2 separate regions of the Homo sapiens genome follow, and region 2 is linked to region 1. The links come from fine-mapping of genetic effects on gene expression. Tissue or cell type: whole blood. Region 1 holds a variant in brackets; the other region holds the start of a gene. All regions are shown on one strand. Distances are between the middles of the regions.

Region 1 (8,107 bases):
AGTAACACGGGGATCTCAACAAGTTCAGCTGTGATGGCGATAGCAATTACAATGGAAAAGTAAAATACAAGCATCTTCAACAGGCCCCAGCCAGGAGCAAGGCTGGCTTGAGGTTTGTAAACATGTCACTCTTCTGTGTTCACTTACACTTCAGACACAGAAATCAACTCAGTCTTGATATATCCAGTTCCTTTAGGGCCATCAAGTTCCATTGGCTCTGGTGCTAGAAATAAACACATTGTGTACGCTTTCCATCAACCGAAATTCCATCAGAATACAACATCAACTTTTCGGGGGGATTAAAGTTCTACTGTGTTTCTAGACAGCTTAGCCTCCTAAAACTTTAAGGAGCTATAACCTCCCTGCCTGAGTCACCTAAAATTCTAGTGGGAATGCAGAAACAACGAGAAGAAGGATCTGAATTCAGTCTGGAAATAAGCTAGTGTTCAGCAGGACACTAGCTAGGAGCTTTCTCTTTACACAACTTGAAATCTTACAAGAAGTCTGAGCCCAAAATATGCAAAGTTCTATCCAGTTTATTGGCATTAGCCTGGCTAATGAATATTCACAGCTGTCAAGGTAAGCTGGGGACATCTTCATTCCAAAGTAATTGTCCTAATATTGAGATTTCTGATTCTGAAAAACAGCTTTGTTGGTGTGTTCCAAACAAAACAGGTCTAATTCGAACCTTCTCAAATGCAATTCATTGACAACTGAGAAGCAAGAGACCTGTGTTCTCAGATGAGGCCTCCTCTTAATAATTATCTAATAAAAATAGGATCTAGTAAGTAATTGGGCCACCCTAAATGAACCACTTCACTTCTCCCAGGCCTCAGTTTCCTCAACTTTAACGTGAGCAAGATGCCTTCTGTTGGTTTACCACAGTTCCTTATTTAAACCCTTTTCATGTGGAAACAGTGATAGTAACAAATACACAAGACCAGCAATGGACTTTTCCAACATTCCTAAAATAGGAAATTGTCCATTCATTTCTTACTAGCTGTATCAGGCCAAATAATGCATTATGTTTCACCTGCACTGAGTTTATGCCATCTTTTGAAAGCCTACTCTTACCAATTCGAAAGCAAAACACTGCATGGGTGGAGTTTCAGAATAATCACCCCCTCATCAGGAAAGACTGTGCCACGCTGTTACCACCTGCTTGCCCCACTTACCTTCCTTTGGCCTGGAGTAATACTTTCCAAAGGCATGGTCTTTGTCAATATTTGGATACAGATACTTCAGGGGATTCTCAGGAATATTCTCAGCAGCCATGACTTTGTAATTGCGAATGATGTCAGGGAAAGTAACAGCAGAAAGTTCTTTCTTCGTGTAGGGTTCAACCGCATGGAAGTCAGGTTCTAAAAAGGAGAAAAGCTAAGTAAATCCCATAGAACATCCCAAAATGAAAGAGGACAGAGAAATAAAACACTGCAGAGTTGATGGATTTGAGTGAACCTCATAAGAACTAATCACAATCTAAGCATTATAACATATACAGTAGACTGCTTTATTTCTAAATAAATTATAATACTGTCTCAGGGAAAATAAAGGGAGGTATTATTCTCAATAACATTCTATTTGCCATTATTTGCTTAGATTTATAAATCTGGGCAAAAAAGATTTATTAAAAACCTTTAAAAGCCTGCATCTTCAATGATGTGCTGCCCATAGGCACATAAATAACTTACTACTAAGTGGATCATCTTGGCTTAAGCCACAGATTTAAATTACTAGAGATAAACTCACTTTGTTTTTCTTTTCATATTGAAAAATCTAATTTTTTATTAAAATAAATTATGATATATAGAAAACAACATTTCAAATTAAAAATGATCCTATTTGCTACATTTCCCTGTAACCCTTAACGTAATAAACCATGGTTTAATTTACTCCCGTTCTTATTCCCAGACTGAATTCAGATCCTTCTTCCTAGCTGATACAGAATCTCCCTTTGGGTGTCGACCTTCCAGAGGCCACGGTTCAGGTGTTCTGGGGAGCCTGCTGTGGAACATGAGACTATGCTGCCATCCTAACCCTTCCTGGCTGGTAGTGTCCTGCTTGACCTTTCCTGGTTGCCAAGGGTTTTCTTCATCTCTGCTTGGTCTACTATATCTGTCTCTCAGCTGGTTCAGGAAGGGAACAGGATAAGAGGAAAAGGGCAGGTTCTAATGACTACTGCCCACGCCAGACTCTCATCTCAGCCTCCCTGCTTTTTCCTCAGAAGAAAAATAGAACAAGAAAAGTATTCCAGAAAAACAAATAGAACAAGAAGAGTATTCCTGAAAAATAAACAGAACAAGAAAGAATACCGTTCCAGAAAAAAAAAATAGAAGAGTATTCCAGAAAAACAAACAGAACAAGAAGAGTATGGCAGAAAAACAAATAGAATAAGAGTATTCCAGAAAAACAGGAGAAGAGGAATATTTCAGAAAAATAAATAGAACAAGAAGAGTATTCCATTTTGTGTCTACCCACTGAAAGTATAAAAATTACTAAAACAAATCAGTTTTTCCTCCTGCCCTTCAAACAGACCAAACTCTAAACAACAGTGAAAAGTAATCAGTTGGTCTTTATGATTTTTTCATTTACGCTGTTGAGCTTCACCCTCAGAAACCTGCTTCATAACACCAAGGTTTCTGGAGTCTTTTAGCCATGGACTCATTTGATTAAATAGAAACCCCATATATGATAAAGATAAATTTGCAGCTGCTCTGTTTGAAGGCAGGGTAGAGGCTGCCACTCGTCCCAACAGGTCCTGCATCAACTCCCTGGCTGATGATGTGTATGAAGTCTTCTCCCGAAGCCTGTCTCATCTGCACACTCTACTCTGGGATGACCCTAAGAGAATGTGGATGCTTACTCCTGTGGGAAATGTGATTCCTTCCAAGAACGGGTTGCAGATTACATTGACTCACATCCTTGATCTGCAGATAACAAACCTGATGCAAAGGAAAGAATTGGCATTGTCTTTTCAAAACCATCATTTCCACAATATGTTCCAGAGAGTGAACCACAACCACAAACATTTGTGGTGGTTTATTAAATCCTATCGGGGGCTCATTTGGGGTAAGTATAAGATCTGCAATTTCATGTCCCAAACGCACTATCTGTATGAGCTGACTGGCGGCGATGAAGAGGGACTTCACACACATGGAATGGTGGGACTATGTGCTCAAACTCCCACTCACCGCCTCCGTTCTGGGACCGCTCCACCCATGTGAATGTGATGGCCCCTTCCCGGGAGCTCTCACTGAACCGCAGCAGGAAGGTCCCCGGCTGCTGGTCCTTCAACAGGGCACGCTCTCGCTCCTTGCTGATGAAGCCCATGATGCACCTGGATATCGAAGAGATGGACGGATGGGCTTTTAGTTCAATCATGATTTCCATTTTCATGCTAACTTACAAACCAAGAAAATGGCTGGAATGTGAGAAAAAAAACCTACGGTAAAAAACGTAGACTATTTTAAAATCTGTTCAGTTGACACTTAAGGAAGCATTTCACTTATACATGTATATACTAAGGTTTTAAAAAAAGCGATATGAACATGGTGTCAGTAGGATGCTACAGATGCTCAATAACACGTGTGGGATTAATGAGCCTTTTATTGTTCCTTTATTATTTTAAAGGCCATAACAATGTCTGAATGTATACATCTTTTTTACTGGAGAGGAAGACCTAGGCAATATATTTTCATATTTTAGCCCTTCTGATCAAGTTAAAGCTTCTGTTGAAATATCAGCCGATCCTGGCAATAAGTCAAGATAGAAATGATTTACCCAGTTAAAAGGGTTTTTCTTCCTTCCTAGGGGCCACATAGTAGGTGCTCAAAAAATTTTTGTTGAGTGAATGAATGCATGAATGGCACTCAAGAGTTGTTTTTTTTTTTTAATTTAGCTTTGCCAATACATATACTTGTACTAAGAAAGTGTAAGGTTAATGTTATGAGGTTCTACTCTTCTGAAGCCCTGAAGGGGCAGCCTATAAATGCGCACTCCTGTGAGATTCACACACGCCTAGTCAAATACTGAAGCTGGACTCAGGCCTTGTCTCAACCTCGCAGCACTAAAAATATGTTTCAAAATACATCTATCGGTGGCCCTTACCCATCATTCCAGAGAGGGAGCAGGTGTTTTTTAATGAGTTCTAGGATGCTTTCAATCCAAAGCCAGAAGGGAAAATTTTTATCATTTATATTTTCCTGAAAGTATACAAATGCAGACATTATGAACAAAAATCTAAAACAATGACTTACCATGGCCCCTCCCACCATCATTTGCAAAGACTCCCCAGGTGCCAAGGATGGAACTGTCCCATTCAGCACAGCAATGGGATCCCTCCCCTGGCAGGGAA[T/C]ATCAAGTTCCCTCCCCGCTCTTATCAGCATTCAGACCAGGAGCTCTCCAGAGCTCTCCACTTCCCTGGGCCGGGCTCTGCTTCCCTTTCCAAACAGTAGCAAGCTAGCCTGGGGGTGACCTCCAGCGTGACTCACGGAAACACAAGCTGCCCCACACTAGCAAAATCCAGCAGTGCAAGCTGGTCCGCACTGTCTGGTGACTCCAGCAGAATCTAAATGTTCCCCGCAGTGGGCCCCTCTGCTCGAGCAGGCCGTTAAACTCGTCTGGCTGGTCAGGCTGCGCCACCCAGCCCACAACATACATTTCACACAGAAATGGCTAAAACACTGCTGGGCAGGGGTCCAGCGTGAGTGAACAGAAGCCTCATTTCAGATATGAAAGAATGTTATCACTCAGGCAGGTGCTTCCTGTCAGACTCCTGCTCGGAGACCAACCTCCTGCACTGAAGAAAAGTAAACAACTTGCCCGAGGGGCTCCTTGGCCAGAGAAGAACACGCCAAAATAAGCAAACAGTTAAGTAACTATCACAGCAAGAAACATGAGAACCTCAACCAAGAGCAAAAAGGACTTAGAGAGCATAAAACCCAGACAGTCCTCACCTTACAAAACCTCGTCCACGGAATGAGACCATCGGGGCTGGCGTTAGGACCTAAACAAATAAAAACCAGATTTTTCAGCAAACAGAAACTGATTCTAAAGCTTTGGTTGGACGGATGGCTCTTGTATTTGCTCTCAAGGAAAAGAGCCAAACACCCAACAAAGATTGTATGTACACAGTTGACATTTTCGGATACCTTAATGCCAAATTAACTGAGCAATTATAATACGTGCTGTAAGAGGGCGGAATTTAAATGGTCTAAAATATGTATATGTTGGTTTGAGTTTAATGGCAGAAAGGAATGGATGGCAGATTCCTGGGCACCACGATATGAGAGTTTTTAGGGAAAGCGGAAACATCACAAAGCCTTACCATCTGCTCTCTCCCTCCCCAGCCCCCCTTTTCCCTCCCTCCTCTAAAGAGAGGACAGTCCTTTTAATGCCTCTTCATGTTACACTTCCTTCCAAGACCATCAGCTGACTTTGCCTTTTGCACTAAATCAAAGGTGTTCTGCTGGGCCTCCTAGAGAAGCCTCCCTATCCAGTGCCTCTTCCCACTGCCTTCCTCTGCTGCTCAGCAGAGCCCCCTCTCCCAAGGATCCTACAGAATTTTTTTCAAAGTTCAACCTAGGTGCCCAAGATCACCCCTAGATCTTCAATGTAACTGATACTTGACTTTACAAGTTTATTTTAGACATTATTTATGCATTTCCCTCAGCTTTCCTCCAAATAGGACATGGGCTCAGGCAGTCTGATGCAAATCAAAAACCAAGTGAGAGAAACGAGAGGAAGAAGCCCGGGGTTATTAGCTACACAAATTAAAGCAGCCTGGGCGAGAAGAGGCGGTAAGCCCATTATCGGTCTTCAAAGAGAACTACAAATGAGCCATTACAGCTAGAAAAGATATCCTTCTTAACTCTCACCAAATAAAGAAATGGAATAAGGGGATTTTGTACTTGTATTAAACAGCACAAGACCACCACTGTGACAGCTGCATATCCAAGAGAAGAAGGCACTGTTGAAAGTCACTGAGTTAGGAAGAGCCTACTGCTGTTTGGAGTAAATGCAGTGCTGCTCTACAGAAAGCAAATCTGGATACAAGTTGTCCACGGATTTTTAAAGAAATAGTTCAGATAGCCTCACTCACTGAAAGATCTGACCTTGAGACTAGTGGATCTTTGATTTGTTTAGTATGAAGGACTAATAAATGCACTGACATTAACCACTGAAAGGGAATTATCTACCACTGTCTAGACTCTGTCCAATCAGGCAAAACTGCAGATCAAAAGAGGCATCCTCTTGTGGGGACGGCATCCTCTGCTACCTGGGCCCCACCTGAGGCAAGGGCCCTGGGTTTATGCTGCAGTGGGCAAGCCCCAGGACTTTATTTCTCATCATGTCAGGGACTTCCTTTTTTCTCCCCAAGGTTAATGGTTAATAGGCCTTCATCTTTCTCATCCAGGAACTTATTTCAGCCACAAATAATATATTTTACATAATTCATAAAACTTTCCCTTGGGAATTCATCTCAGAAATCTTAATATGAGACAATGAGGAACGGATTCATTTAAATGTTATCAGGTCTATATTTCTTTCTAAGGTGACATATGATTCTCACTTAGCTATAATAAACTATAGCTTGAAAAGCTGACAGATTTTAGTACTTTTTTACCTTTAACAAAATAGCAGAGGGGAAAAGAGCAATTAGAGAGATATTTTTATGAATTTCAATTTTTATAAACATAACAAGTTAATATGCATATACCAAGAAGCTTCTCTCCCAACATGTTCAGCTGGTCCACATTGAGACCTCTTTTGGTGACAGAAGAAAACTGCCAACTCAGCACTTCTGAAAGCTGAGCCCATCGTGCACATGGTGGAGTCAGGAAGAAGGACAGATTCTAGAGAGAAAACACCCAAAATCTAAGGGTTACTACAGAGACACCAGTCACAAGTGTGGCACTAAAACATATGTCCATCCCAAAGTTCAATTCTAGTTTATATGACACACAGGTGCTTTCACAGTAGGGGAAGAGAAATACAGTCAATTTTCATTATTTACAGATGCACATTTGTGAACTTGTTTACTCACTAAAATTTACTTGTAACTCCAAAATCTAAATACATGGCATCTTTGGGGTCATTTGAAGACACACCCGTGCACACACAGCAGCACACAGCAGCAAAGAATTCGAGTCTCTTAACACGCTTCCAACTGAAGCCAAACAAAATGACACTCGCTTCCTGTTTCACCTCTCATAAGAAAAACGTGTCCTTTTTGAAGCCTATTTAGCGCCATGTTTTTTGCATTTTGTGACTGCTGTTGGTGATCCCTGTTTAAAATGGTGCCCGAGCATAGTACCACAGTGTGGTCTACTGTTCCTAAGCATGGGAAGGCTGGGATGTGCCTTATGGAGAAAATACATGTGTGAGGCAAGCTTCACTCAGGCATGAGTTACAGTGATCCTAGCTATAGGTGTAATGTTAATGCCTCAACAAGTGTATTAGATAAGGTGTCTTTAAACAGAAACACACATAAACAATGTTATGCATTGATGGGTTGACAAAAATGTTGTGACCAGAGGCTTGAAGGAACCTAGCCTCGTAGTTCCCTTAGGAGCAACAATTCATTATTTGCTAGTTAAGTGTTCCTGGTGACTTTAAAAAACATAAGTACTTTGAATAATTATAAATGACTGTAATTAATTAACAGTGAGTATCCACACTCTAAGAATGGAGCATGCTTGTTTAGTAGATGTATACATTTTAAAAATAATAACAATAAAGTGGTATGGAATCACTGACTGCCCTAGCTTACCCACATGGGAGAAAAAACGTAATTCTCATTTCAAATACATATCCATGCTTCATATTCCCAGATTTACTCAAAAGCCTTAGAAATACCACAGGAGCTTTGTCACTTCTCCCTTAACAACTGGCCATTGGGGCTATTTCAGAGATGCAGCAGTGAGAGCGTGGGGTCTCTGCTTAACCCTGGGACCAAAGCAAATGTGTTTTCCATACCCTGGGTTCCGCCACCAGCATGTTGTACCAAAGGATGGAGGCCCAACCGCTCGGGAGCTGGCTGACGTTGGAGATCACCACAACGGGCAGAGAGGTCGTCTAAAGGATGACAAAGACCTTGAAATCATCT
Region 2 (8,107 bases), 99 kb before region 1:
TGACTTTTGGACTATATACAAAATCAGTTTTTTTTAGGTTTTGCTAATATACAAGAAAGACTTTCTTAACTCTGGGCTGGGGTTTAGCCTGATTTATTTTTAATATGAATCCACAGAAAAATAAGCATTAAAATCACTTTAAAAAATTAATATTTGGAGGCCCCATAAATATAATGGTGGTGTAAATATAAACAATATTACCTTACAAACTCCACTAATTGAAATCTTTATCATATTACTCTAAGTGGAGAAAAATAACTGATTCCCACCCAACCCCCACTCCGGCCATCAGGAAACTCTCAAAAAGAACTTCATATAGTTAGTATTTTAAGGCAGATCATTCAGATATGCTGCTCAAATTTGATGAATATCTCTTGTCATTTTATATGATGTCACAATGAACAGAGGTATACTTTCATTTACATAGATGGCAAATGATATATTTTTAGATTTAATTGCTATATGTTAAGGTATTTGTATATGACATGTATATTCAAGGACTGCTTTCTTAGCGATTCTTCCTTCTCTGGAATTTTTTTTTTTTTTTAGCTATTTGTGAATAGCTGTTACTTTGGGCACTGAGCCCAGCTTTTCTTAATCTGACTGTCTTTATCTTTTTCTATTTTAAGATACTTTGAAAATTATTGGTTTATTTTCTAAAAATGAAGTAAGTAAATTATCTCTAGGTTCCCCTTAAATGGTATTTTATTATTAGATGGTTTAAAACAATTGTTTGGCTTTTCAACAATAAGTGTAAAAACTGATCACATTGCATGTCAAAATTTATTCACCTATGGTTTGATAATAACAGCTATAACACTTACAGAGTGCTACTGTCATTATTCTGGGTGCTTTATATGTGTTGTTTATTTATTCCACACAACAACCCTATAAGTACCAATATTATCCGCCCCCCTTTGTTTTTTTGAGATGGAGTCTTGCTCTCTCATAGCCCAGGCTGGAGTGCAATGGCTAGATCTCGGCTCACTGCAACCTCTGCCTCCCAGGTTCAAGCAATTCTCCTGCCTCAGCCTCCCGAGTAGCTGGGATTACAGGCATGCACCACCATGCCTGGCTAATTTTTTGAATTTCTAGTAGAGATGGGGTTTCACCATGTTGGCCAGGCTGGTCTTGAACTCCTGACCTCAGGTGATCCACCTGCTTCGGCCTCCCAAAGTGCTGGGATTACAGGCGTGAGCCACCTTGCCTGGCCATATTATCCCCTTTTTATAGATGAGGGATTTACCATACTTACTTTGGTACACATCTATATTCAGTATTGGAAAAATAAGCCATGTTTGGCAGGGCTTATCAGTGAGGCTAGGAATTTGGCCAGTTAAAGCAGGAAACCAACAGAAGAAAGGGAAGTAGTAGCAGAAGCTTGTTTAGAGGCTTCCTGAACCTTACTCTATTCTCCAAACAGAAGAATTTCAAAAAAAGGCTTAGGCAATTCTTTTAAGCTGTTAGTCAAAGGAAAATTACTTTCTTTTTAGTTCTAGGTCAACAAATAATCTACTAGTTTTTGTGAAGGCGCAATCTGGAATTTCTATATATATATATTATTTTATCTTATTTTATTTTATTTTTTGAGATGTAGTATCGCTCTGTTGCCAGGCTGGAGTGCAGTGGTGCGATCTTGGCTCACTGTAACCTCGGCCTCCCAGGTTTGAGTGATTCTCCTGCCTCAGCCTCCCAAGTAGCTGGGATTACAGGTGTGTGCCACCACGCCCAGCTAATCGTTGTATTTTTAGTAGAGATGGGGTTTAACCGTGTTAGCCAGGATGGTCTCAATCTCCTGACCTTGTGATCTGCTCGCCTCAGCCTCCCAAAGTGCTGGGATTACAGGTGTGAGTCCACCGCGCCCGGCCTATATATGGATTTTATTATGATCTTGAAACATTAGCCTTTTGTAATCTTCGACAGAACAAAGAAGCTCAGGAACATAGAAGCACAGGAACCTTTCTTCAAGTTAGAACAGACACAAAGTGCACAAATTCCAATTATTCCTTTTGATGGCTGATTACCTGATGATGGCTATGGGACAGCAACTCTTTGTAGTGTAGCTGCACTTAGGAGCAAAAAGGAAGTCGAAGAGTAGATCTGACAACCCAACCATAGTTAATGTGGAGAGCATTTTTCTATTTGTAGATATTTTGGTGGACTACTTATTGTATGTATACAAATGTTTTTATACTTTTTACATGATGATTACATGAGTTTATGTAATGATATAATTCAATTTAACATAACTGAAACTTCAAAGTTGTGTAATGGTTACAAAGTTGTAGATAAAAATATCTTTAAAGATTAAAAAATTATATAAGATGAAGAAAAGAATCAAATGAAAGTATTGAGTCACATTTTTATTCTATTTATAATAGTTTCTTTGCTGTCTATAACCTTTTCATTAGCCTTCTCAAACAAGGGGTTAAATTTCAGTGGACTCAATTCTTCCAAATTTTGGGAGTAATATCTATCCATTCTCACCAAAAGCAGAAAGTCTGGAAACTACCAGAAAATAAAACTCTAGAAACTAGAAACTCTAGAAAATAATCTGTTACTAGGTTAGCTTTCTTATTTGTTAAGTGAACTATAAAGCCTTTAAACCTTTAAATATCTAAAACAATTTTCATAAGAAACTCAGAGAAATTAAGGGAGAAACTGAGAGGAAAACAGTAACTGGATTGTCAGTTGCTTTGTGTTGTTGAGAAAAAAGAGGCAGTTAAAATTGATAACTAATTGCAGCTAATATATTGGACAATATTAAAGTCTGCAAGTCATTAACAAGTCAGGGTTAGGCAGGGGTAATATTTGTTACCTTTCCTCTGAAACTTGATGTCTCTATTCCTGAATATATCATTACTTTGATTCATCAACATTTTTGGACAAGTAACATTAGTAATAAAAGCTATCTAAGTACTTTCCCATTGTCCTGCTTTTTTTTTTTTAAATAAAAAAGGTGACTATGTTTTACACATGATAGTTTTTTCCATGTTCTTCTGGTTAAAGAGCAGATAGAAAAAAAAAACTTAAAACACGGCAAGGCTGTAACATGCCAAAGGTCACATAACCTGTAGGTACAGCCAGATTTCCTAATTATTAATCTATTGAAATATTTTACAGTTCACTAGATTACTAAATCCGGTTATCAATTAATGATGCACCTGACATACACCCTTCTAGTTTCATAAAAATCACCTCATTAGGCCGGGCGTGGTGGCTCACGCCTGTAATCCCAGCAATTTGGGAGGCCCAGGGGGTGCAGATCCCTCGAAACCAGCCTGGGCAACCTGGCGAAACCCCGTCTCTACCAAAAATACAAAAAAAAAAAAAAAAAAAAGCAGGTGCTGGCTGAGGTGGGAGGATCACCGGGGCCCCTGAGTTCAAGGCTGCAGTAAGCCGTGATCGCGCCACTGCACTTCAGCCTGGGCGACAGAGTGAGACCCTTTCTCAAAACGAACACACACAACAACACAGTAACAACACACCAACCCCCAAAACATCTTATTAAACTCTGTGGATCTACTCCATTTAAACCTAATTGTTTCAGGAAATAGTCTAAAAACATTTTTTTGTCCTGGAATGTAATGTGTATGTAGCCTCAGGGAATAACTCAGTTTATCAGGTTCTTGGCTGTTTTTCCACAGGTCCAAAAGGATAAATGGATAAAGTGATGCTGAAATAACTTAGAGAACCCGTATTCCAACGCTTCTATTTTAAAACAGTGAAGCAGTTTTTAAAATAGAAAAGTATCTACAGTTTTGCTTTCAAGCAAATAGCGTTAACGGAATCATTGCTATTCAAAACTATTTTTGAAGTATCGGTGTACATTTAAAAAAAATAATTTTTAAAAAAGAAAGCTGTCGTATTCTGGATTCCGCAACCCCCCCACCCCGCCTCGCCACTCGTCGCCCTCCCTCCACCTCCACCCTCCCATGGCTTAAGTCGCATAGCTGAAAGGATTTTGCTCATTTTTTCCAAAACACTTCACGTCTGGGTAGTAGCCAATCATGGAAAGTTTCAAGCAAATGTTACATTTGGGAGAGGGATGAAGCTTGTCCGGGGCTGCTCTCGGAGGAGTCGCCAGACGCCCTGACCTGGGGGCCAGATGCGAGCTGGGATCGGCTGAGTTCCGACAGCTCGGCCAGACTCAGCCCTGCCAAACCTGCTGACCTCACTGCCCTCGGCTGCGGGGGATCTCGCCCATGAGTCTCCCCAACAGCTCGAATTCCCAGAGTGGAGGAGCCCACTGCTTCATAAATGCGAGAACCCAGAGCCCCTAGTACCCAACTAGGCTAGCCTCGGAGTTGGCACGGCGTGCAGAAAGTGGCTACTGAGCAGCCGGGCCTGGCTCACCCGCTTCACACGTCAGTTTGACTCCTCTCCCCGCCCCCCACCAATCCCCCGCCCTACTCTCCGCGCACCCAGAGCCGAGAGAAATTTGACTGCCCTAATCGCCAATCAAAAGAGAGGTCGAGGATTTGAGCCAATCGCAGCGGGCGAAAGGGGCGGGCCGTCGGCGAGCGCTGAAGGTCTCTAGCCCTCCCCTGCGCTTTAGCCTCAGTGCGGAGCCTTAGGCGGAGCGAAGAGAACCGGTCGCGGCAATCCTAGCGCGCAGCAGCAGCAGCAGCAGCAGCAGCAGCAGCAGCAGCAGCAGCAGCACCCGCATCCGCTGCGGGAGTCCGAGCCGGAACCACACCCAAGTAGCTGCCCTTTCCTCTTCTGTCATCTCACCGCCCCACCACAGACCGCGTTCCCCGAGGAAACCGGCCGCCCACGCCCGGAGCATCCTCCCCTGTTGAGCGGGCGCTGACGGACCCGGCGGCATGATGCGGCTGCGAGGCTCGGGGATGCTGCGGGACCTGCTCCTGCGGTCGCCCGCCGGCGTGAGCGCGACTCTGCGGCGGGCACAGCCCTTGGTCACCCTGTGCCGGCGTCCCCGAGGCGGGGGACGGCCGGCCGCGGGCCCGGCTGCCGCCGCGCGACTCCACCCGTGGTGGGGCGGGGGCGGCTGGCCGGCGGAGCCCCTCGCGCGGGGCCTGTCCAGCTCTCCTTCGGAGATCTTGCAGGAGCTGGGCAAGGGGAGCACGCATCCGCAGCCCGGGGTGTCGCCACCCGCTGCCCCGGCGGCGCCCGGCCCCAAGGACGGCCCCGGGGAGACGGACGCGTTTGGCAACAGCGAGGGCAAAGAGCTGGTGGCCTCAGGTGAAAAGTGAGTGTCTCCGCGAGGCGCAGGAGGCCTCGTTCCTTTCGGGGCCCGGGCTCAGGCTGTGTGGGGCCCTGCGGTGGGGCGGGATAGGAGCCGAGGGTCTAGAAAAGAGAAAGAAAGAGGTGCCGGGCGGCCTGCGCCGTCTGCGCCATGTGATTAGGCCCGGCCCCGCCCGCGCCTTCCCCGCCCGCAACCCTCCGCCAGGCACCCACTTCCCTTCTCCGCCCCCGGCGGGGGTCGCCCTGGTGGGGCCGCGGTGGGGCCTGATGGGCTCGCCTGGCGTCCCCAGCGCCAGAGAGGCCGCTCCCCTGCCCGCGCTGCGTGCTCAGCTCCCTGGCTTGCGGCTGCAGCGCCTGGCCGCCCGCCCCAGCCATTCGTGGGCGATGCTGCACGAACATCTCCACCGAGTGACATTTAGGAGTTGGGCGTTCAGCAGAGCCTTTACCTTCCTGACTTGTCGCTTTTCCTGGCTCGTTTCCGCTCTGCCTGCCCTCCCTTGGTTTCTGCCATCATCCGGTTGGAAGCCAGATGTGACAGAGAGCTCTTTATATTTCGGGAGTGGCTACCTCAGGCACGTGTAGAGCCATCTGGGGCACCGGAAACAATGTTTCAGAAGTGAGATTAGGAGGAATCCGGTCATGTGGCCGAGAAGATGGGGCACGCAGTATAGACCACCTGTTTGCATAAGGGACCAGCTTTGGCTTGTCAGGTCTTCCGTGAGATGGGGAGATTTTTAGAAATAAAAGTTAAATAGCCAAGATGAAATGTGACGTAATACACTAACTCAGTGAAAAATCTGAGTTGAGTAGGTTTTGTGACTTCATTGTGATAGGATGTTGACTCATCCTGTATGTGTACGGCACAGTAGTTTAGTCTTAAAGCAAAACTGGTTTTTCTTAAACAATATGCAAAGCAGTCTCCTATATATTTTTGTCTTGTGTAATACAAATGGACCACTTTGTTTTCCCAAAATGGGTAAAAATTTACGGATCTGCTTTCATTATACCTTACTCTTTTTCTGGCTTTGTACGCTGACACTCTAACCTGTTTTGCTTCCCTTTTATTTCTGCTGCTATTTCCAGCTCTAGAGTTCCTTAAGTCAAACTGAAAGTGAGAACATTGTTATAATTTCAATCTCACGCCTGCTTGATGTTTTCCTGTAATTGAAGTTGGGACCTTCCAGAAACTTTTCTAAAGTTCTTCTCCCAGACTGAAAAAGATTATTTGAAAAAAATCACTTGATGATGGGCGAAATTTGTGGTATTTTGTGATGTTGGTTTTGTGCCACAAAATAGCGTCCTGACCATGGACAGGTTATTTAATATCTTGGGTTAGATGACTTAAATCCTTTCAAGTTCTAAAAAGCTATACTTCTGTTAAATTTGTACTTCTCTCATGTTTTAGGGACTAGAATGATAATTTAATCTCATCTGGGACTCACTTTTACTTTAACATCATCCGGTTTACCAAGGAAGTAACGAGTTTACATGCAAGTGCCCAAGGTACAGAATTGCAAAATGCAGTCACAACCGTTTAAAAGTTCATCTTAAAGGCTACAAGATGGGAACTGCATTCTAGTAAAATTATGTCTTCAGGTCTGTGTCTCTGCAGTGGCTCTAGTGCCTCTCTTTTTTTTCCTCTTTTGTCAAACAGGAAATTGAGCTTCTTCTGTGATTCACTTGTCCAGAAGTTTCTGGTTTCATTGCCTTTTTAATAAAAAATCACCTTTTAGCAAGGGCCTCAAGGTTGTGAAGAAAGTTTTTTAATTTGGTTAAAGTTTCTATTTCCTTAATGATCTGGTTTCCAAATGTAGCTTTCCCTCTTTGGCTCCTTTCATTTTGCCTTTATGTGACAAACATTTCTCTTATCCTGGGAGGTAAGCTCCCAGTTGATCCTGTTATCCTTTCTAATGCTTAGCCTGCAAAGCATAGGTCATCCCTCAGTCAGCAGTCCACCTGGTATGCTAGCACTCACTCAGGACTGTGCCAGATTTTATGTAGTATTATTAAAAGAAATAACCATGAGAAAATTAAATTAACATTTTGTAAAAGGCTTAGAACAATATTTGGCGTGTGTTAAATGACACATAACTATTTATTAAATAAATGAGAAAACATTGCTTCTTCATTATTGTAAAGCCTGTTAAAGAGATTGGCCTTGGAATTTCAGGCTTGCACATGAAGGTTTTTAATTTTTTTAGTTTCCACAAAAATGTTTATCTTGAGAAATTGCTATACATCTGTCTTATATGAAACTATGTGAGTTGCACTGTTTACCTTTTGCTCTGCTGATAAATAAGTTCAGAGTAAATTTAATGCTTAACCACACCAATTTCATCAGTTCACATGGCTGGGATATCTGCGTTTCCTCCTTTCCTTGGTCCTGAGTTTATATTTTATTTACTTTATATTCTGGAAGGAGGCGTGATATAAGCAAGTTACTTTACCTTTTTTTCACAAACTCTTTGAACTAATGTCACTTTAGACTATGCTGTTTCCATCACGCAACTTTAGTGTGGTTTAGGATACGAACGTCTTAATATCACATAGAAAAATTTAATGATCTTTGCTCAGTTTTGTCTTTAGTGATCTTATTTAATTTTGTTATGGTTCATTCTGTTATCTTGAAAACCAACTTTGCTTGCCTCTCTTCGTTTTCAAAATTGTTCTCTCTTCTTTCCTAGTTCTTTTTGAATTTCCTCACTGGGTAAAAACCCTGAGGCTGAGGCCTTTGTCCCTTTCCCACTTGTCTGCCTTCTCAACAGCGTATCCCTTCTTTCAGCTTTGACTCTCATCTTTGTGTAGGTAATACTTCACCTCTTAATCCAAAGCTCTGTTCTTAAATTTGTCGCCACATATTCAATGACTTCAAATTTTAAGTCTGTACCCTGATATTCAT

The links. PIP is the estimated chance that this variant, and not a neighbour inherited with it, causes the effect.
Region 2: it holds the start of GLS, and the variant in region 1 is fine-mapped to the expression of GLS in whole blood (TOPMed, PIP 0.93).

The regions. Positions count from the first base shown.
Region 1 is chr2:190,975,665-190,983,771 of GRCh38, forward strand. It overlaps STAT1 (signal transducer and activator of transcription 1), which reads right to left. Exons shown (of 25, transcript NM_007315.4): 17 at 7,978-8,076; 18 at 6,719-6,854; 19 at 4,956-5,005; 20 at 4,108-4,202; 21 at 3,192-3,337; 22 at 1,176-1,361; 23 at 148-223. Among named protein-coding and RNA genes, the nearest start is that of STAT1, 34 kb to the right of the region's middle. The variant T/C (reference allele first, on the strand shown) is at 4,355.
Region 2 is chr2:190,876,259-190,884,365 of GRCh38, forward strand. GLS (glutaminase) reads left to right here and starts at 4,563. Exons shown (of 18, transcript NM_014905.5): 1 at 4,563-5,212. The coding sequence starts at 4,827. It overlaps LOC124906110 (a long non-coding RNA gene), which reads right to left and starts at 5,730. Exons shown (of 2, transcript XR_007087791.1): 1 at 5,655-5,730; 2 at 78-5,310. RefSeq lists enhancers at 3,951-4,090, 5,487-6,686, 5,851-6,040 and silencers at 4,361-4,620, 4,961-5,020, 5,071-5,160, 5,221-5,530.